3 linked regions of the Homo sapiens genome follow. The protein of the gene in region 2 binds, or shares a complex with, the protein of the main gene of each other region. Each region holds a gene or a part of one and is shown on either strand. Other genes may lie near its edges.

Region 1 (6,986 bases), on a different chromosome or scaffold from region 2:
AGTCATTATTACGTGGTTTTTTGGCCACAGGCAACTTACACCTAGTAAAAAGAATGCATATATAATCGGGCCACTTTGCTCACCAGGGTTTCTTAATCTTTTCATTAATAAGCTACTGAATTAATAAAGAAGGTATATGGCTCCTTCCTCCTCTGGCCATACATTCTCTTTGGTCATCACTACTTTGTAGGCCTCCTTGGCTCTTTCTCTTAAAATTCCCAATTAATACCTTGATAATATCATGTTTCTTATAAACATATATGCAAATATACTTATAAAGCCATTTTGATTTTCAAGATATTTAAAAACTAAGTGTGTACAACAGGAAGACAGACCCCTATCATTTGAAAGCAACATTACACTAAGTGAAGAAGCCAGACACAATTTAGAATAAGTGATCATAATATGTGGAAATTTCATCTTCAGGGAATTACCTCTTATGCTTAAAAACTTTCTGTCAAGTACTACATTTCTTTGCCTCATCTTCAGGGGCTAGGGTTACAGCAAAACACAGAACATTTATGGACAACCAGGGACCAAGCACTGGTATCATGTATCAATTACTTCCCAAGCTGATACTAAGTTCTTTGAAGGGAGGAATTTTGTCCCATTTACTCTGAATGTCTCTGTACGCTTTCAGCACCTAATGTACCATTAGATAGTAAAGGCAATAAACATTCGTTGAACAGACTTATTACATGTGCTTCAAATTCTTCACAGACCAAATTTTTGTCCACACTCTTAACCTTACAGAACTTAGAAGCTTTAATATCTTTGATGAGCCTTATGCTGGAAAAAGTCCCAAGCTGTTTTTGGATGAAAACTTGGGCCCTTATGTTATCATTCAGCCTATTTCTGTTCAGAAGATAGTATTTATCACATTTTGTAATTAAACATTTATTTGCATGATTATTCAGTCAATGTATACTTCACTCAACTAACTCATGACAACTGAGTCAATGCTGTGTTTTCTTTCCATTGTCTCCCTAAAACCTAGCATAGAGCCTGGCAATTGATTTGCTCAATCATTATTTGTTGAATGAATAATCTATTCAGGAATGTATCCTTGTTAAAGCTTTTCATCTATATGACCATGTCAAATCTTGCTTTAGAATAAAGCAATTAAGTCTGTCCTTGACCAGCAGTATAACCTCAAACTCACTGATGCTTAATACTTCTCAAAAACTAAGAAAAATATAGTATTAATTCATCCATCCATTCATTTATTCAATACCTATCTGAACTCCTTCTATCATGTATCAAGTACTGTTCCAGATGCTTGTCTCTGCCCTTATGTTCCTTACATTCTATAGGGGGAAGGTAGGAGGAAGGATACAGTAATACTAAATAATTAATAAATACCATGAAAAAAACTAAAAAGGTTAAGGGGGCCAGAGACTGCTGGGATGCAAGGCATGATTGAAGTTTGCTATTTCATAGAAAGTAGATAAGAAAGGGCTCTTTGCTAAGGTCAACACTTGATTAGACAGAGGAACAGCAAGTGTGAAGGCCCTGTCTGGCAGGATGGTAAATCTATTCAATCTCTACCAGTGTTTATTAACTGGGGGTGATATTGCCCTCAAGAAACATTTGGAAATAGGAGGAGGTAGGTATTTTGGGTTTTCACATTGATATTAAATAAGATAGGTGAGGGGTGGGATGGACATACTAATCTACAATGCCCAGGAGAAGTTCAAACAAAGAATTGAAAGAATTGGTCTGCCCATAAAATATCCATTACATTTTTGCTGGGAATTACAGCATTTTTGGTTTCACTTTTAAATTGCTCTCATTACATTATCAAATGTCAATGAATAAAAGACTGTATAAATTATTTATGATGCAATCATGTAACAAACAGGATGGTATGTTGTGTAAATTTAGCTTATCTTAATTCAACTATATACTTCCAATCTCATTTTCTCCAATATGCTGATTCATCAAATTTCATATGTGATATAAGCTAGGTCTCAATTTAAGAATTCAGGTGACACTTATTCCACAACAGACTCTTCTGCCTTGTACAGCATACAAACATCTTGGATGGGAATTGGCATACATTAGCCATCAAATCAATCAGAGAAACCTTTCCCCATTCTAATGTGGTAATAGTCCCCATTTCCCACTTTCTCTGACTGACAGTCATCTCAGGTTTTAAAACCAGCTCAAAAGATATCTTTTCCATGAGGCTTTTCCTAACTTCCCCAGTTGTTCACTACTCAGTACCGCCATAGCAACCTGGTCTCTTCTCCACAAGCACGCTTATCAGACATACAGGCTTTTGTTTACCTGTCTGTCTCACAAACTAAACTATAAGCTTTTCCGGGAAAACAACTACCTTACCCATCCATCTTTGTATCTCCGGCGCCTAGTACAGTGCCCAGTGCCTCGCAGGCGTTCAATTAATGATTGTAGAAGAAATGGAGAATGAATGACCTTAGTTAAGCAAAGAATATATCAAACTCAAAAATGTCTGTTTAAAAACCTAAGACCCCAGAAATCGGCTGCATGAGTTGGGTTAAAGCATTAAATAGGACCGGAATGCTGGTAGGTAGAGAAATCTCCACTTGACTTCTTCAAGTACATCCTGAAAAGTACCAACATCAGTGTTTCGATGCAACATTGTCCACATGCAGGAGTAAAGACAACACTTCTCGTGGTCTCTTCCTACCACGAGATCCTGAAACCCACTCCCCACCCCAAATCCGGGAAATCTCACTTTGGGGATCCCAGGACCCCAAGTTCCCTAGATGAGGCTCTCACCTTCCCATTCGTGGGAGGCTCCTGGATGTAGATGTTGCTCATCTTGGTCAGTACAAAGGACTCTGCTCCTTACGGGGGATGAGAGCGGCCGGCCGGCCACTAAAGCTGTCCGCCTACGAGTACACTCTTCCTTAAGTCCAGTGGTGCAGGAAAGCTTCAGTTTGTCAATATCACGCAAGACAGGGACACCAAACACTACCCCTGCCCAAAGGAGCCCCTCACGGACGCCGCCATGTTGTTACCGGACCCGAGCACCGCTAACCCTGAGAAGGGTTATTCCAATGTACTCCAGGGAACGAGAAAAGTCCGTAAAGTTACCATAGCTTAATGTTATTTATGTTATTTGTATTACAATATTAGAAGGGACACTTCATAAGTGTTGGCGGTGTTTACACTACTCTCGTGTGCAGATCAAACTAACTCCCCCTCCAAAACTATCAGTAATGGTTCGGACCATGTGTCTTCTGCAATATGACTCGTCCGGAAACTGCATCCGCATCTACTGGTTCTGCCGTCGCTAGAGGCGTACAGGCCCTTCCCGACCGTAGCGAGGGTGCTGCTGCGCTGGGGGAAGGAAAACGCCGCTTTGACTGTGCCTTGTTCTCACAGCTGGCGGGAAGCAAGCGCCTTTTCGAAAGCCAGAGGCTCGAGTTACCCCTCTTACCACCGTCATGGCAGTCCCAGGTAAGGAGCAATTACAGGGCCTCTGCGTCCGAGCTCCGAAGGGAGCGCAAGGGAGGGTAGGGTAGGGTGCGGCGTGTACGGAGCAGCGCCCATGGGGATTTAGGCGGAGGCCTTAAAATTCACAGGTTTGTTTTGTTTACATGAAAAAGTTTACACTCCAAACATAAACTCTGAAGGAAAGAAAATAACTATCTTCCCCCCAGGAGCCAAGCCCCAGCTGCTTGGGATTACAGGGAAAGTGTATTGTGGAAGGGAGGGAGGAGGGAGAGACTGTAACTGTAGGCCTAAGGGGGCAAGCGGCCGAGAAAAACTACCTTAACTGTGGTATGGCTTAAAACTAAAACTTGAAGTGGGAACACTTGGCCGACCCAGGTAACCGGAGGCATCGTTTGTCTTAGAAGTCGCTAGGACCCACCGGGTGTGCGGGTTCTACTCCTAGCTCTTCCTGTTGTATGTAGCTGCTCCGTGGCCATAGATTGGTCGCTTTGTGCTTCTGGGCCTCAGTTTCCTTATAAAAAGAAGGAGCTTTGTTGAATTATATATAAGATTTCTTCTAACTCTCAAATTCTATGTCCAGAAGTTACTGACCTAAAAACGGTGAACTCTGCAGAATAATTACTTAAAAGATTTTCTCGTCCTCAACTACCAGCTTACTTGGAAGTTCTAGTAGCGGAAAGCATCTCCTCAAACCAGCTTTGCCACTGCAGAACACTGATTGCAGGAGACATTTTCAGAAATACACACTTCTCCACCCCACCTCCCAACTTGGAAATTCCCAGCGCACTTTAGTAATAGAAAAGATTCTATTCTATTAGAATAGAATACTATGAATTGCTATAGAATTACTATGAACTATAGAATTACTATGGTTCAGAACCCTAACTTTGTTTAAACCTGCACTTCCCAGTATTATTTGACCAGGTTCTTTATTCTGTGGCAGCCTTTTTGAACCTCCTTCTACAGATAGCTGTTATTGGAACACTGTGCTTTTGTACTAACTGAAGTTTGCGGAGGAGTACATCTGGAGCTGTGAGAGAGGAAATGTACACTCTTTATTAAGCCTACTGTGTGCCAGGCACTGGTACTGGGCATTGGAAATACAGTGGTGAGCAAGGTAGACATGGTTACGCTTCACACAGAACTTAGAATTTAGCAGTGAAGAGAGAGAAATTTACAGAAAGTGGGACAAGTGCCATGGCAAGGAAAATACAAGACCTTAGCACAAAGTAAGGGCACCAAACACATACAGGATGGGCAGAAGGACTTTCCAAAGGAGGTAGCACTTAGGAGGAGATCTGAATTGTAGGAGGGGTGGCTTGAAGGGAGAGGAGACTGCAGTCGGAGGAACTGGATACGTAAAGGAAGAGGAAATATGTGAAAAGAGGAAATGAAAGATGTTTTCTATGGATGGAACTCAAATACAGATGGGAGATAAGTGAGAAATTAAGTACAGAGGTAGTAGCTGTAGCTAATATTGACTAATATTTATGTGTCAAATATGTCAGAATGAAAGATGTTTTCTGTGGATAGAACTCAAATACAAATGGGAGGTAAGTGAGAAATTAAGTAGATAGTAACTGTAGCTAATATTGACTAATATTTATAAGTCAAATATGTCAGATACTATATCAAACATTGTATTCTATCTCATTTAATATTCACAACTGCACTGTGAAATGAGTATTAATATTCCCATTTTACAGATGAGGACACTGAGGGACAAAGAAATCAAGTAATTTGCCTATTATGAGACAGCTGGAAAGCAAGAAGTCAGTCTGGTTCCTCTAGACTGTGTACTTCATTCATTTTGCCATCGTATAGGATAACTTACAAGGTAGTTTCCAGCTCTTTAAGGACCTGTAGGCCATGACAAGAGGTTTGGCATTATCCTACAGATGGCAGGAAGCCATTTAAGGATTTTAAAGCAGATTCACATTTTGGAAAGATAATTCTGGCTAGAAAGTAGATTGGAGACAAAGTTTACCAGTTAGGAGTAATTCTGGTGAGTTATAATGATGTGTGGCTGAGATGTGGTCTCAATAGGTAAGGAGAGAAGTGGATAAATTGAAGATACATTTTTGGTGGTAGAGTCACTAGGAGTTGGTGATTGATTCAGTGTGGGTAGGTAAAAGAGGAAATGAGGTTTACCTGGGTTTTACTGTTAAGCAATTGGGTGGGGCTGTTTACTGACATGACAACACCTCACAAGGGGCAGGGGTTAAGGGGATGATGATGACATCCAGTCTGGGGCTTGTTGTGTTGAGGTTAGTCAGACATAGGAATGCAAATAGTTAATAGTAAGAGATATAATTTGTAGCTTAGGAAAGAAGTCAGAGTCAAAGACAATGATTTGGGTGTTACCCACACACATAATAGGAGGTAAGGCTATGGGAGTGGAGCACTCTGCTTAGATGGTGTGTAGAATGTGAAGGGAAGGTCTGTGGCTGAAGCCTGGTCAACATCTAAGAGGCCAGCAGCGAAAGATAAACCTACACAGTAGATTGCCTAGGCATCCTGATAGGCCGAGTCAGCTCTAGTGATCTTTATACCACACAGCTGCACCCAAAGTTGACCTGTTATCACTGCTCATTTCATTACTTGAGCAAGCCTTTTGGGCACCTGTGTGATATGGGCACACTGGAGGACACAGTGTCATAGTCTGTGCCCTCATAAAACTTTAAGCAGTACATGAAAATGTGCTACTTAAGAAAGGGGACAAAAGTGATTTTTTAAGGCCTCATTAAAATTCTCTTAAACTTAGACCAGTGTTATAGATATGTTAACCTTCTTTCAATTCAAAATAGTGCTTCAAAGTATAATAATGTTAAATTGTGCCATTAAGCTAGATGGCAAGCTATAAACTGTTTAAACCCAGCAATAATTGAGATAATAGGTGTGACAGTGCTGTAAAAGTACAATGCAAGTGTCATTAGAAAATACAGATACAGAAAATCGTAAGATAATTTCTTAGATGATCGATCCAGACAGGGTATTAAAGGAAAATAGGGCTAATCTAAACTTTTCAAGGTTATCATCAAGGAGGACAAGTATTATGTTAGGCTCTTTAATTTTAGGTTTAATGGATTCAGTTTGGCATTTCTTGGGGTGGTCCTGCTAGTGATTATGACAAGGTATGATTATAAAGTAACAAGGCTGCTTTCTGCAAACCACACATAAAAATCAGCCTTGTCTGTTTTATGATCATGTGCTTCACCCGTGTTTCCATAGCATTGTGTATAAGCGTATACCATTATGTAGGTAATGCAATGAAATGTAGGCATTTAGGAAAATCTTACTCTTAGTTGTTATTATAGAAATAATATTTGATCACAGGTTTCAGTGAAATTTACTTTCTTTGAAAAAACTGCTTTTCCCATTCACAGTTGTTGAAATTACCTCCAACATTCATGTCAGTGATTCACCACTCTCCATGAAGAGCTGAACTGGCACAAGTGGCAACGTATGTTACTGATGTAATTGGCACAAAACTGTTTTCTTATTATCTCCTTCACTGAAGCCCTATAGCCAAGGTAGGGAAT
Region 2 (7,292 bases):
TTTGCCCGCCTCGGCCTCCCAAAGTGCTGGGATTACAGGCGTGAGCCACCTCGCCCAGCCACAATCTGCTAATTCTTATATGGCTGTGCCACGTGTGGTGGCTAAAAGGTGGTTAATGTTCAATTATGTTTTTCTTAGCATTCAAGTTACAATGCATCTCCAAAACAACCCCAGAACTTGAGTCAAGTAAGTGTGCTATAAAGATGCACAACAGTCTCATCCAGAAGAATACCTTTTTTTCTAGGCATTCTGCAAATTTCAGCTGCTTCAGTAGTTTCTTCTGTTTGTTGCTGAACCGATTATCCTGTTCTGCACTTGTTCCCTGCAGGAAGAGAACCACATCTTAACTAAGGGTTCAAAGTTAAATCCTTACTTTTTATCACCTACGACCTTTATAGCCAAAATAGGGTAACCAAGTAAACACAATACCAAACTAGTTTTCATAGATGAGAAATGCATACTCCTTCCCCAATGTAGCTGATACTTGGAAAACTTGACTGGATTTTTAAATTATCAAGTATATGTTCATCATAAGTCAAACCTAAAACAACAGTATACAGCATAAAGCCAACACCTCCTCATATCCAATGTTAGATTTGATTTGTATCCTTTCACACCTTTTCCTATGCTAATAGATACGTAGGGCTTTTCTGTTTAAATGAGAACACATTGAAGTATTTGAAATTTCATTCTTTTTTGAAAGCCAGTTGCATGCTTGCAAAACTACTGTGGCAATGCATACAAACAGGGTGAAAGGAAAAAAGAACATCCCAGGACTGTGCTGTTAGTCTTCTACAACTTTTAGGAACTTGGAATGAGTGAAGAAGACAGGGTTACCTAAATAAACTCAATTTCAGCAAAGAACCTGGAAAAATGAAAGCTTACAAATACTACCTTAGATCATCGAGTGATCACTAATTATTCTTTTCATTTTGTCATTCCTACTGGCCCAATTAAACACGGAAATAACTGGCTGTGCCATCTGAAATGTACTGATTGGTTCACTGAGTTGGCCACAGTCCCCTGGAAAGCGATCAAAAAAAATTTTGTTTGAGAAGGTAAAAACTGTGCCACTACTTAGCCGTAAGATCGTAAACCAAGTTACCCAGCCTCTCTGAGGATAGTTCCTTCCCTGCTAAAATAGAGGTATAGAAACCTACTCTGCAGGGTTGCTGTGTACATACCAGAAATAACATATGTAAAGTATCTGGCATGTGGAAGAAGTTCATTGAATGGAAGATATAACTTCTATACTACCTGAAATAGTTCATCTGGTTGGCAGGGTACTAGATAATGACCCTAAAATATTTTAACTTGGATCTTAAATCCAGTTAACTCTTGTATTTAAGCAATTGTAGGCTGTGTACTAAAAACTCGCCCCTCTCCCAGACCTTTACCAATACCACAAGCAAACTTCATGTTAAAATTTGCTCATCAATCACCTTACTCTTTTATTTATTTGGACTCCTTTCCACAGAAAATATTTTGACAAAAGTCAGAAAAGGCTTTCACTTGTTTCAAAATACTACTTGCACTGCAGAAAATATTGAATATTTACTACAAAACACTTTGATGGAAATTACAAAATGGACAGTTCATAAGCAGTTTGCAAATTCGATACGCTAATCTGAAACTATCATTCCAAAATAAGTATCTTACTGTTTGCCTAAGAACAGCTGGTTGTTCTTAGGTAAAATACTTGGGGGATAACATTCTAACATGACGAAAAACTCGTTGGCATATTTAAAGCCAATTAAAGAAGGATTTCAATGTCCAATTCGGAGTGTCCAAAGATATTTTTACTAAAGTTCTGGCCCTCCTCCCTTCCAATTTTTCCTTTGAAAACACACAAACTGCAAATTACATGCTCTAAAGAGAAGAGCTAACGTGTATTTCAGAAAACGGATATATTGGCTTAGATCAACTAGTTTCTATACGACTTCATTCTGCATTAACAGTTTGCAAGCCCTGAGAGACCAATGGTGCTCAACTCTAGTCCTGTGTCCCTTCTAGATCTTGATCTAGTACTAATTTCCTACAGGAGGGGACTATGGGACACACAGGCTCCAGCACGAGCCTGATAAAGTGTGGGCCCCGAGAACCAACTACGACGGAGTAACTTCCCTGCCTGCAGGCGATGGGCAGACGACGCTGGCAGAGCCTAGGTAAGAGTTACCTTTCACCAGCGGACTCCAAGAGTAAAACACGATGGTGGCGGGTGGTGAGGGATGTGGAGGGCGGGAAGGAATTGAATCACTCCACAACCTGCCTCCATACCCGCGCATAGTTTTCGTTGCACCCTCTACCCTCACAGAACCTTAAATTCACATTGTCCCAACAAGTTATCTACGTCCCCCTCCCTGAAGGGATATCAAATTGGGCGGGAGCTCCCGCGAACCCTGACCTGGCGCCTCCACGAAGGCTTAGGACCTGGAGGGAGGACGTTGGGGGGCGGGGAGGGCGCTTTTTCAAAAAAAGCCGCTGAATGCTTCTTCCTGTTCTCCCTCCCCTAAGGTGCTCTCCCAAGATGTACCCCCAAACCATATTCTCCCTGCCCTGCCGCCACCAGTGACCTTAGGGCTTTCCTTTGGCCTCCCACTCGGGACTTCCTCCTCCGGCTCCGCTAGGCCCCAGGACCCGGCGGCACGCACGGCGCTCGGCCTGCAGGCCCCGCCAGGCAGGCGGGCAGCGAGGTACCATCCCGGCCCATTCCCGCCGCCATTTTCCGGCCACCGTCGCCGCCGCGTAGGGGGGACCATTCCGGAGGAGGAGACTGCGCAGGGGCGCACCGGTCTCCGCCGCAGCGCACGGGGGGGGGGGGGGTGCGCCGGCTCTAGGAGGAATCCTTAAGATCTCCGAAGCTCCCCTCGCTGGCCACCCTGTGCCAAGCTAAGGTCTCCTACCAGGCCTTACCGAGAAGTCCCTGGCCTCACCCCGGCGCCCGGCGCTTCTACTTACGCGGAAAAATCCCGCGTCCATCTTGCCGCCTCGCTCGGAGATCGCTCCCTATCCCAGGGTACACCGCGCCGCCGCGACGGAGGGCGGGACCGGCGGAGGGAAAGCCGAGCGCCGGGACGCAGCGCGCGTCGTTGCGCCCGCCCCCTCCGGCCGACACGAGGCCGCGCCTGCTCAGTGCGCCGAGAGCCCGCCACGCGTGCGCACGAGCGCCAGCGGGGGCGGGCTTCTGTCAGGCCCTAAACTCCCCGGTAGGTAGTGGAGGAGGCGAACCTGACGACCGCAGCCAATGGGAGCAAAAGGGAAGGCCGTCGAGTCGCCCCGCCCTGCAAGTCCTTTTGTGGCGCGTGACCATCCTTGTTCGCGCAATGTGACGTGACCCATCCTTCGACCCGTAGTGGAAGAGGCTTGGCGTCCTGGAGTTCCATGAAGCGATTGAAGAGAAAGGCTGTTACCTCAGAGTGACGCGGGCGAGGCGGCCCGTGCGCCGACGAGAGGCCTGCGGCTTCCCTCTCGTTGTGAAAGTTGTGATTGTGTAGGTTTTACGCGTTTACCAGACGAGAGAGGATTGTCTGTAAAGCGGTCGAGCCTGGCAGCAGACATGAAATCTGCCTTGTAGCTCAGCTTGCTCAGCCTTTGGAGGAAGCTGGAAGTGTCCAGTAGATGGGTTTCGGTTTCGGCGGCCCGGTAATCACGCCGCTGGGCAGGACGCCCGCCAGAGAGCCGTGGTCCTCGGGCTCTGCCTCGGGCTCTCCCCAGCCCGGGTCTCGGACTCCGAGAAGCACCAGCTTCCTCGCAGCGCCTCGCCTGGCCGCCCTGGTGCCTCTGCTCTGGCTGCGAGGGCCTTGGGTTGGATGCGCACTGCTAGATTTTCTTATTTTGAAAATTATTGGCCGGGCGCGGTGGCTCACGCCTGTAATCCCAGCACTTTGGGAGGCCGAGGCGGGCGGATCACGAGGTCAGGAGATCGAGACCATCCTGGCTAACACGGTGAAACCCCGTCTCTACTAAAAATACAAAAAATTAGCTGGGCGTGGTGGCGGGCGTCTGTAGTCCCAGCTACTCGGGAGGCTGAGGCAGGAGAATGGCATTAACCCGGGAGGTGGAGCTTGCAGTGAGCCGAGATCACGCCACTGCACTCCAGCCTGGGTGACAGAGCGAGACTGTCTCAAAAAAAAAAGTTATTTTTATCTAATAAAGCAGAGATGGGGGTCTCGCTCTGTTGCTGGTCTCGAACTCCTGGCCTCCCAAAGTGCAGGGACTTCAGGCCTGAGCCACCGCGCCCGGCCCCACTCTGCCAGCTTTTTCGCAAGCGCTTCTCGCCCTTCTCGCTTCCCTTTCTCGGAGGGAAAGCCGGCGTCCCTTTCTCAGAAAGGCCTCCTCCGGCCATCTTTTGCATCGTTCCCGCCCCCACACACACTCTCGCCTCCCTTTTCTCTTTTTTTCCATGGCACTTAGCCCACCTGAAAGTATGTGTGTGTTTGCTCTCGTGGCTGGAGACACTAGCTGTGTGCTGGAGACATCCCTGCATCTCCAGCTCAGACTTCTCTCTTGACCGTCCCACGTGCCCCAAGTTGAAATCCTGATTCCTTCGCCCTCCATCCACCAAAACCACAAACCACCTGCCCTTCCCAGGGTCTTCCCTGGCTCCCGCTGACCGCAGTGGCTTTCCTTTGGTGTAGGACGCAAGCGTGTGTTACTCTTGACTCCTTTCCTTTACCTCGGCTTTCAAACCATCAAGAAACCCTCCCTGCTGTCATCGTGGTTCAGGGCACCATCGTCTCTTCCCTGAACTGCGCTAACCCCCTAAGTGGTCTTCCTGCTTCTACCCTGGCCACTCAGCATCTACTCTAAGTGTAGCCGGCAGGGTAGTTCTGTTAGAAAACCTTAATCAGACACTTTTCTCAAAACCTTCCAGCAGCCTCTCATTTTTGTTAGAACAAAAGCCAAAATCCTACCTGATGCACGCTATTTCGTCTTTGATGTAATCTAGAATGCTCTACTTCCAGATATCTTTTTTTTTTTTTTTTGAGACCGAGTCTCGCTCTGTCGCCCAGGCTGAAGTGCAGTGGCGCGATCTCGGCTCACTACAACCTCTGCCTCCCGGGTTCAAGCGATTCTCCTGCTTCAGCCTCCCTGGCAGCTGGGACTACAGGTGCGCACCACCACGCGCGGCTAATTATTGTATTTTTAGTAGAGATGGGGTTTTGCCATGTTGGCCAGTCTGGTCTCAAACTCCCAACCTTCACTGATCCTCCCGCCTCGGCCTCCCAAACTGCTGGGATTACAGGCATGAGCCACCACGCTGACCTACTCCTGGATATCTACTGGGCAAACTTAAAGTCCCCACTGCCCCCCCGCAGATGGGGTCTTGCTCTGTCTGCCCAGGTTGGAGTGCAGTGGCAGGATCTCGGCTCACTGCAACCTCCACCTCTCAGTTTCAAGGAATTCTCCTGCCTCAGCCTCCCAAATTGGGAGCTGGGATTACAGACGCCCGCCACCAAGTCCGGCTACTTTTTTTATCTTTAGTGGAGATGGGGTTTCACCATGTTAGCCAGGCTGGTCTGGGACTCCTGACCTCGTGATCCACCTGCCTTGGCCTCCTAAAGTGCTGGGATTATAGGCGTGAGCCACCGTGCCCGGCCTGGGCAAAGTTTTTACTTTAAAGTTTTTACTCGATGGTCACTCACTGAAGCCTAACCTGACTGCCTTGTTGGAAGTTGCTCGGATATCCTCTCTACATCCTGATGCCCGTTACTCTTTTTTTTTTTTTCATAGCTTTTATCACCTAATATGCATTTAACCTGTTTTTTTTTTTTTTTTTTTTTTTTGAGGCAAGGCCTGGCTCTGTCACCCAGGCTGGAGTGCAGTCACGTGATCTTGGCTCACTGCAGCCTCCGCCTCCTGGCTTTAAGCCATCCTCCCACCTCAACCTCTGGAGTAGCTGGGACTACAGGCCCGCACTACCATTCCCAGCTAATTTTTGTATTTTTTGTAGAGATGGGGTTTTGCCATGTTGCCCAGGCTGGTCTCGAACTCATGAGCTCAAGGGATACCTGCCTTGGCCTCCCAAAGTGCTGGGATTACAGGTGTGAGCCACTGCGCCCGGCCGTTTAACCTGTTTTTAATGTTTGTTTATTGTCTGTTCCCCACACTAGAATGTAAGTGCCCTAAAGTCAGGGCTTACTGTTTTGTTCATTCATGTGTCACTAGAAAAGTGACACATGGCATGGGTTCAATAAACATTTGTTCAGTGAATGAAGGCTTTGTCAGACGGCCAAAGACAGGGAAGTGACAGGCCTCCACAGAACAAGCCACTTGACCAGATGGGAACTATGAAATCACAACACCCCACATCTCCCTGACTATTCTCTATGGTTCTGATTAGTCATTCTGTTTTGGGCTTCCTTCACTGTCTCTGTCTGTTTGCTGTCAATCCTATAAATGTTGTTTTTTCTGGTAGTTCTGTCATTGACTACTTTTTCCCTCAACAAAGGTGCCCTCTCTGACCTCTCGGTTTTGATTACCTTTCATATTTCAAACCTGTGTATCTCAGGCACAGGCCTGCTCCAGACCTATATTTTCAACTTCCTGCTCACCTATTCACTTGGATGTCCCATAGGCACCTCACACTCAACATACCCTAAACTGAATTCATCTTCATCCACTTGCCTTCAACCTTCTGGTTTCCCATTCTCAATGAATGAGCCCACCTTTCTTTCTATCATGATTCTTCTCTCTTCCTCACACTCTACAACCAACTCTTGCCTTTTCACCTCTCTTAATAGCTTATGCCTCCCTCTCCTCATCCGTTACTTCTAAGTTGCAGCCACAATAAACTACAGATGCTTGTCTGATTATGAACAGATTTAGATTTCGAATGGCAATTTATTTGTCTATATATTGGTAAGCCTAAAATGACTAAGAGATGATTCAAATGGCACCTCTTCATCAAGCCTTTTCTGAACAACCTTCCAAAAAGGACACCCTCAATCCCCTCACTCTGTCTTACCTTTTTCTTTCTTTTCTTTTGGAGAGAGGGTCACTCTGTAACCCAAGCTGGAGTGCAGTGATGCAATCACAGCTCATTGCAGCCTCCTTAATTTCCCCAGCTCAAGCAATCTTCCTGCTTCAGCACCCTGAGTAGCTGGGACTACAGGTGTGTGCCACCACACCCAGCTAATTTTTAAATTATTTTTTAGAGACGGGGGCTTTATTGTATTGCCCAGGCTGGTCATAAACTCCTGGGCTCAAGTGAGCCTTCCACCTCAGCCTCCGAAAGTGCTGGGGTTATAGTCGTGAGCCACCATGCCTGGCCTATTTTTCTTTTCTTTCTT
Region 3 (6,990 bases), on a different chromosome or scaffold from region 2:
TTCACCTCCCAGGTAAGGGCCATTTCCTTGATTCCAAATATTTAAAGATCCTATCAACTATCCTGATATTTTATTCCTTCAATTTCCTTCCTCTCAATAGGATTTACAACAATTTGCAGTTCCTCCCTGTCTTGCCAGCTGTCAAATATTACCTGTTTTCAACTCTGCTCTATTTAAACACATCAAACCAGCCTCCTCTGTTCCAACCGTTCCCATACCTTCTCCATATACCTTGCCCTAAATCTATGTAGAAACCCTCTCTACACCCCACTTTCATTAATGTCCAACCGTTGGCTTTCCCCACCAATCCCCTGGATAGCACTTCCTAGTTTTTCTCTCTCAGCCCTGCCTCTTCCTTCTCTCCTGTGTTAACCCCATGCCTCCTCCCAGGTTCTAGCCTTTCAACTTGTCCCAACCCTAACGTGATTCTGAAAAATTCTCAAGTCCCAGCTTTCCTGGTTAGATTCCTTGGCTACACATACTCTATTCCTTTCTCCTATTACATATACTCTCTTTCTCACCCTCATCCTCTCCAAGATAGTTTCCTAGAACATGCATATATGAGAAAATACTACTAAGAAAAAACCCTAAGGAATACGTAAAGCGGAGAGAGTAATCAAAGATGTAAAAGAACTGGATAGAAGGGAAGGATGCATTTAGAAAATTCCAGAATGAAGAAGCATCATACAAATGTTTGGAAAAATATACTAGCGCATGCGCCTAAGGATGGGTCCCTACCCAAGCCCAGTAGCAGACCCAATATTGAAAGCAGAAGGTGACAGAAGAGGCTAAACCTGGATAAGGCAAGCAGAAATCCAGGAAAAAATGAAAAACTGTATGGCTCAAAAAATCAATTTCTCTACACCCCAATCCTCATTTTCATCTTCTAGTACCAATCCTCCTCACGGTTTAAAACTAGGTCCTTCTTCGCCTCTCCCCTACCCCACTTAATTTCTGCTTCCCCTGCAGCATGTTTTTGACCTGCACTTAATTCTTCAGCTTAACCATTCACCCACACTTCCATACCACCTCACACAAAAATCCCCCCACTCCTTAAGAAAGGAAAACCAGGCCGGGTACGGTGGCTCACGCCTGTAACACCTGCACTTTGGGAGGCCGAGGTGGGCGGATCACCAGATCAGGAGATTGACACCAGCCTGGCCAACACGGTGAAACTCCATCTCTACCAAAAATACAAAAATTAGCTGGGCGGCGGCGATTGCCTGTAATCTCAGCAACTCCAGAGGCTGAAGCAGGAGAATCGCTTGAACCCGGGAGGCGGAAGGTTGCAGTGAGCCGAGATCGCGCCACTGCACTCCGGCCTGCCAACAGAGCTAGACTCCGTCTCGGAAAAAAAAAAAAAAGAAAAACCAGTAGGTGCTAAGCAAAGGATATTAGGTCACAATGTTTCGGAGAACTTTTAGGGAATGAGCCACCTAGTCCACCCCACAAAAAAAGACGACGACCCCACGGCATCTAAGGGGTGTGTTAAGACACAGAAAGTAGGAAGATCAACACCACACACAAATCACCAAACCAAACGATATTACAAAACTCTTAAAGTGGGGGCCATAGACAGTGGATATGCAAAAGTTACCCAAGTTAAAAGCAGAAAGTAAAAAGTACAAAGGAAGACAAAAACACCCTTTTCTGTTGGGAAATTATCCGAGTGGTAAGCTAACAATGAAGTAGAAAGATATATTTGAATTCAACAGTAAAATATGCAAAAAAGAAAACGGTACCAAAAGGGGAGAAAAAGGGGAGACAAGGGTTGTCGAAAAAAATGGACATCAGCAAGCACAGCCAGCTCAGCACCGGGGCGCTCCAGAGCGGCTGAGTGGACACAAAGAACCCAGAAAGCTAAAATAGTAGCTTTAGAAGAGCCCTAAGCCCACGCACTTAGGATGAAAGACAACACAACACTCTGAAATTCTGATCCAGATTCGTCCTAACTGAAGCCGAGTGGAAACCAAGCTTCAGAAGAGCTGTGTGCCAAAGAACGCCTGAAACCAACCAGAAAACTTATATATGAGTCTGGCGTTTTCTTCCCAACGAAGGTCTCCAAAAGCCTCCTTAGTTTGAACACGAATTCTCGGGAGACGTTGAAAAAGTGTAAAAAGGGAACGCACGGTCTACCTTACAAATGTAAACTGAACACGTTCACTTTCTTCACAGTTTTTAAGATTTGGGGTTTCTCCCCGCCACTAACAACTCAAAGGCTGATAGCCGGGAATCCTAAACCATTTAAATCCGGCCCACGAAGTTCAAGGCCCTCCCCGCAGCGCCGGGGGCCTATTTTCGGCCTTGCGGAATGGGGGAGGGGGCTGCGCGGCGTCCCGCAGTCTGGGAGGCCCCCGACACGGGCAGCCCAACGCCGAAGAGAAGCCCGAGGAAAGGAGATCTGGAACCGGGGGCAAGGGTCCAGGAGCAAGCCCCCCGCCGCCGCCCCTTCCCCGCCACTTAAGGGCCGAAAACGGCAGCTGCAGGAAGGCCACCTCGGCGGCACATGTTGGGGGGAGGAGTGAAGCCGAGGCGCGCGCCCTCCCCCCTCACCAAGGGCGCTCGCGAACCCGAGTACAGGCGGCTGCGAACGCCGTTGTCATGGGGGAGGGGCGGGGGGGGGTGAAGCCCGCGCGCGACAGGAACGGCGGGAAGGGGGAAGGGAGGCGAGGGCGTCCGCGCCAGCGAAGGGCGTCGAGCGCGCGTGCGCGCGGAGGAGCTCGGCGGCCTGGGCAGTTCTCCGCGCGCTTTGGCCTCGCGCCGGGGCCGCCGCCCCTCCCCCACCCGGCTCGCTGGCTCCCTCACCCTCTCACCCGCCGCCTCCGCCCGCCGCCTCCGAGGGGGAGAGGTCTTGCCGCCGCCGCTGCTCGAGCTCCCGAGTCCCTCGGGCCTGGGGCCGCCGCCTCGCCTCGCCGGTCCGCCCGCCTCAGCCGACGCCGACGCCTCCTCGCTTCCTCAGGGGCCGCAACGGGCTCCAACTGCGCCACTCGCACCCCGCCTGGGCCGCGCTGCACGTCAGCACGACTAACTGCGTGCGTCAGCACGCAAACGCGCGTCGCGGGGCCTGCCGGGAACTGGAGTGCGCCCCGCGGCCTTTTGCGCAGGCGCCGAAGCCACACCGCGAAGTACCGTTTTTTCAGGCACAAGGAAGGTTTCACCCCGTTGCCGAAAGACTAAGCGTCCCGTTGGCCAGTGCAACGAAGAACGGAGGAAGCGACGTAAGACACCGCGTATTCGTAGGCCTTCCGCTGCGGGGAGGAGCACAGGGCCTAGCGGCAGCAAAGCGACGCCCGAGCGCGTCTCGTCTCCCGCTGTCGATGCAGAGCATTCTGGGAGTTGTGGTTCGGGCGTGTCGCGGAGCCCGGATGTAATTTCGGCTCGGGGCGTGGCGGCCATTTTGTCTCCCCATGTTGGGAGACGATATCCCAGCCGCGGTGGTGCTGCCGCTTTCGTGTGACTTTGGGTTTCCCGAGCGAGCCCGCAGCTGCACAGCAGTCCGCCTTCCCGTACCCGAGAGAAGCCGCCTCAGACCCCAGCCAGCGGGCACCCCCGGAGGCCCCGAGCCTGGCTGCAGGCCCTAGACCTGCACCAGGGGCCCAACCAGTTACCCGTAGCATGGGCCACGTTCTCCCGCTGTAGACCGGGCTGAGGCCCGACGGCCACCCCTGGGGGAGGAGTTTTCTTAGCTTCCGGTAGGGCAGCCAGGCCGGGGTCCCACCAGACCCAGGACGTGATACCGGTGAAGCGGCACATACAGGAACAAGGCAGGAGGAAAATAATAAGCACCTTAAAGTTTCCACTTTTCGGTACCGTACTTCCTGTTAATGTTTCTAAGCCCGTGATTCTGGGCCTGATAATCAGCCAGCCGTCCTCACAGCAGAGTTGTAAGACGCTGGGCTGCTCAAGCACAAGTTCATATCTAGACCCACCGCTGGCGAGCAGCCCTGGACGTCCCGCTTAGCTGTCCTAACCAACTCAGGTGGCCTTGATCCGCAACAGGACGCGGTACCACGTAATGAACTGTCCATTTGAGTGCAAGGATTTATATTTGTTATTACGATTTGGGGGTGTTTTTAAGAGGCAGGGTTTTGCCCAGGCTGTTCTCGAATTTGGGGCTCAAGCGATCCTCCGACCTCAGCCTCCCAAGTAGCTGGGACTACCCGTGCATGACACCCTATCTGGCCCTTGTTTTTTGTTGTTGTTGTTGTTCTTTCTTTTTTCACGTGGTTTCGCACTTGTCACCCAGGCTGGAGTGCAATGGTGTGTTGTCGGCTCACTGCAACCTGTCTCTCAGGTTGAAGTGATTCTCGTGTCTCAGTCTTCCGAGTAGCTGGGATTACAGGCGTGTGCCACCACGCCTGGCTAATTTTTGTATTTTTAGTAAAGACGGGGCTTCACTATATTGGTCAGGCTGGTCTCGATTTCCTGACCTCAGGTGATCTGCCCACCTCAGCCTCCCAAAGTGCTGATATTACAGGCGTGAGCCACCACGCCCGGCCCGTATCCGGCTTTAAGATTTGTTTTTCACTTGCCCGTGGGAGGATGTACTTATCTCAGATGCTAGAGCCGGGAGACCCTCCCCCCCACCACCCCCATCTCCTGCAGGAGCTCTGATCGCAGATTGGAGTGTCTGAACTCTGCATCTATGGACGGTGCTTCTGTAAGCCGGCCGCAACTCTGGAGTGGCATAGTAAAGTGGCAAAGGCTTTGCCTTTCTGGTTAAAGACCCCAGCACCTCCAGTGAGACCCTTTCCTGTACCCCCACTGATATTCTTTATGGAATGTTTTGTGCGTGAGTCAGCACATTTAATGCCCGTGAATAGTGACAAAACATGGTTTGCAGTACCCTAATGACTGATGATGCTGAGAATCTTTTGATGTGCTTGTTGGCCGTTTGTACATCTTTGGAGAAATTTCTCTTCGTGTCTTTTGTCTATTTTATTTTTTTGGGACAGAGTCTCACTCCTAACCCCGGGCTGGAGTGCAGTGGCACGATCTCCACGCACTACAATTCTTGTACCTCAGCCTCCCAAGTAGCTGGGATTACAGGCGCACGCCACCACCCAGCTCATTTTTTTATTTTTAGTAGAGGTGGAGTTTTTTGTAGAGATTGTGTCTCCCTGTGTTGCCCAGGCTGGTCTTGAACTCCTGGGCTCAAACTGTCCTCCCCCCTTAACCTCCCAAAGTGCTGGGATTACAGGTGTGAGCCATGGCACCCAGCCCTAGAATGATTTTTTAGTTTCCCTTTAAACTTTATTTTTTTATTCACTGTAGTGTGGTGGACGGTGGTGCCCCAAAACTTCACAACCACCTAGACATTCGGAAGGTGACCTTATTTGGAATAAGAGATTTTGCAGATGTAATTGAGTTAAAGATCTGAAGATGAAATCATCATGAATTTAGGGTAGGCCGTAAATCCAATGACTGACATCCTTACAAGAAGACAAGAGGACACAGGCACCCGGGGGAAGAGGCCGTAGGAGACCCAGGCAGAGATTCGGAGCGGTGCCCATGCCAGGGATCTCCAGGAGGAGCCAGAAGCTGGGAGAGGCCCTGCAGATCCTCTCCCAGAGCCTTTGGAGGAGGCACAACCCTGTCCACACCTTGGTCTCCACTTTCTGGCCTCCAGAGCTGTAGGGGAACCCACTTCTGTGGTTTGAAGCCACCAAGTTCGTGGTGACTTATGGCAGCCCTAGGAAAGTGACATGCACAGGTAAACCACATTCACTGCAGGAAATATACAAATCAGCAAAAAGAAAAAAAGCACACAGGGGCACCACCCCCAGAGACAGCCATGGCTGACATCCTAGCGGCTGTCACCTCGGAGTGATGTTCCTAAAATGCAAACTTCTGAACTGCTTAAAACTCTTCCAGACACCCTCAGGTTGACATCACAACTCCTTTGTTGGGCCTTCCAAGGCTGGTCCTTCCCGTGGCCTCTTTTCCCTCCGCTCTGTGACAGTCCATGACGGGCACACTTGCCTATGCTTGTTCTCCCAGGCAGTGGCCTTGTGTGGGCCTTCAGCTTCCAGTTCCATGGCCTGGTGGAGGACCCTGTGGTGCAAGCCTTCCTCCAGACCCCCCTGGCCTGGGGCCCAAGACTGGGAAGCCTTTGGTGAGTGGAGCACCTCCCATTTGCACACTGGCTTCCTGGAGCTTACATTACAAATAACTAGACAATTACCAGCCAGGACAGGTGCTAGGGAGGATGGGAACAGGGTAGGGGGGTGAGGATGATGTCTGCAAAAGCATCCTGCCCTCCAGAGGGAGACCAGACCTTCAGGAAGGACAATCCCTGGGGTTAATGCCATAGCCTCCCACCTCCCAGCTGCCTGGGAGGGTTTCTCGAATTACCTTTTTATCTGGAGACCCCAGCCCCCATCCAACCCCTCCCACAGGGCTGCAAGCAGGGTCTCTTGAGAGGCCTTCTGGCTTCCAGGCCCCATGTGTGCTCCCAGCCTTCTGGGCAGGATGGACTGAGGCTGGTCCTCAGCGCAGGCATGGTGGGGCACACGGCAAGCAGAACAAGTGCCTGGGCCCTCTCTGTGCAGTACCCAGACCCCAAAAGTACTTGGCTCTGAACCTCTGAAACATGCCCTGGTTCCTGTACCCAGGACAAGCAGATATGAAACACTGGAAATGAGTGCCGGGAGGAATGGCCTTCCACGTGCAGCTGGCATGGCCCATGTCCAAGCCACTTCAGCGGCTCTTTCTGGCCTTGGTGTAGCACATCTGGTGAGGTCGATACTGTCCAGCCACCCCTTTCTTTTCTGGAGGGGGAGGAGGGATATTCTTTGTGATGTAAGGGTTTAGAGAGCTTTTAAAGCACTAATTGGGGCCAGGTGTGGTGGCTCACACCTGTAATCCCAGCACTTTGGGATGCTTGAGGCCCAGGAGTTCAAGACCAGCCCTGGGCAACATAGTGAGACTCCCCCCACCACCTCCCATTTCTGAAAAACAAACAGAGAAAAGCACTCATTTTATTTTCTT

The links. The genes of interacting proteins can lie anywhere in the genome.
Region 1: SRRM1 (region 2) and CWC27 share a complex: the UniProt entries of both Homo sapiens proteins name them as parts of the minor spliceosome.
Region 3: SRRM1 (region 2) and SRRM2 share a complex: the UniProt entries of both Homo sapiens proteins name them as parts of the minor spliceosome.

Annotation. Positions count from the first base shown.
Region 1 is NC_000005.10:64,764,966-64,771,951, reverse strand, and holds the start of CWC27 (spliceosome-associated protein CWC27 homolog), read right to left. Parts: upstream 3,023-6,986; 5' UTR 2,806-3,022; coding exon 2,764-2,805; intron 1-2,763. Other genes in the region: protein SREK1IP1, read left to right, coding at 3,435-3,447. UniProt on the Homo sapiens protein: As part of the spliceosome, plays a role in pre-mRNA splicing. Probable inactive PPIase with no peptidyl-prolyl cis-trans isomerase activity. As a component of the minor spliceosome, involved in the splicing of U12-type introns in pre-mRNAs.
Region 2 is NC_000001.11:24,639,014-24,646,305, reverse strand, and holds the start of SRRM1 (serine/arginine repetitive matrix protein 1), read right to left. Parts: upstream 3,005-7,292; 5' UTR 2,980-3,004; coding exon 2,959-2,979; intron 2,748-2,958; exon of another isoform or gene 2,574-2,747; intron 323-2,573; coding exon 233-322; intron 1-232. UniProt on the Homo sapiens protein: Part of pre- and post-splicing multiprotein mRNP complexes. As a component of the minor spliceosome, involved in the splicing of U12-type introns in pre-mRNAs. Involved in numerous pre-mRNA processing events.
Region 3 is NC_000016.10:2,748,670-2,755,659, reverse strand, and holds the start of SRRM2 (serine/arginine repetitive matrix protein 2), read right to left. Parts: upstream 3,023-6,990; 5' UTR 2,814-3,022; intron 2,755-2,813; exon of another isoform or gene 2,604-2,754; coding exon of another isoform or gene 2,554-2,603; intron 1-2,553. UniProt on the Homo sapiens protein: Required for pre-mRNA splicing as component of the spliceosome. As a component of the minor spliceosome, involved in the splicing of U12-type introns in pre-mRNAs.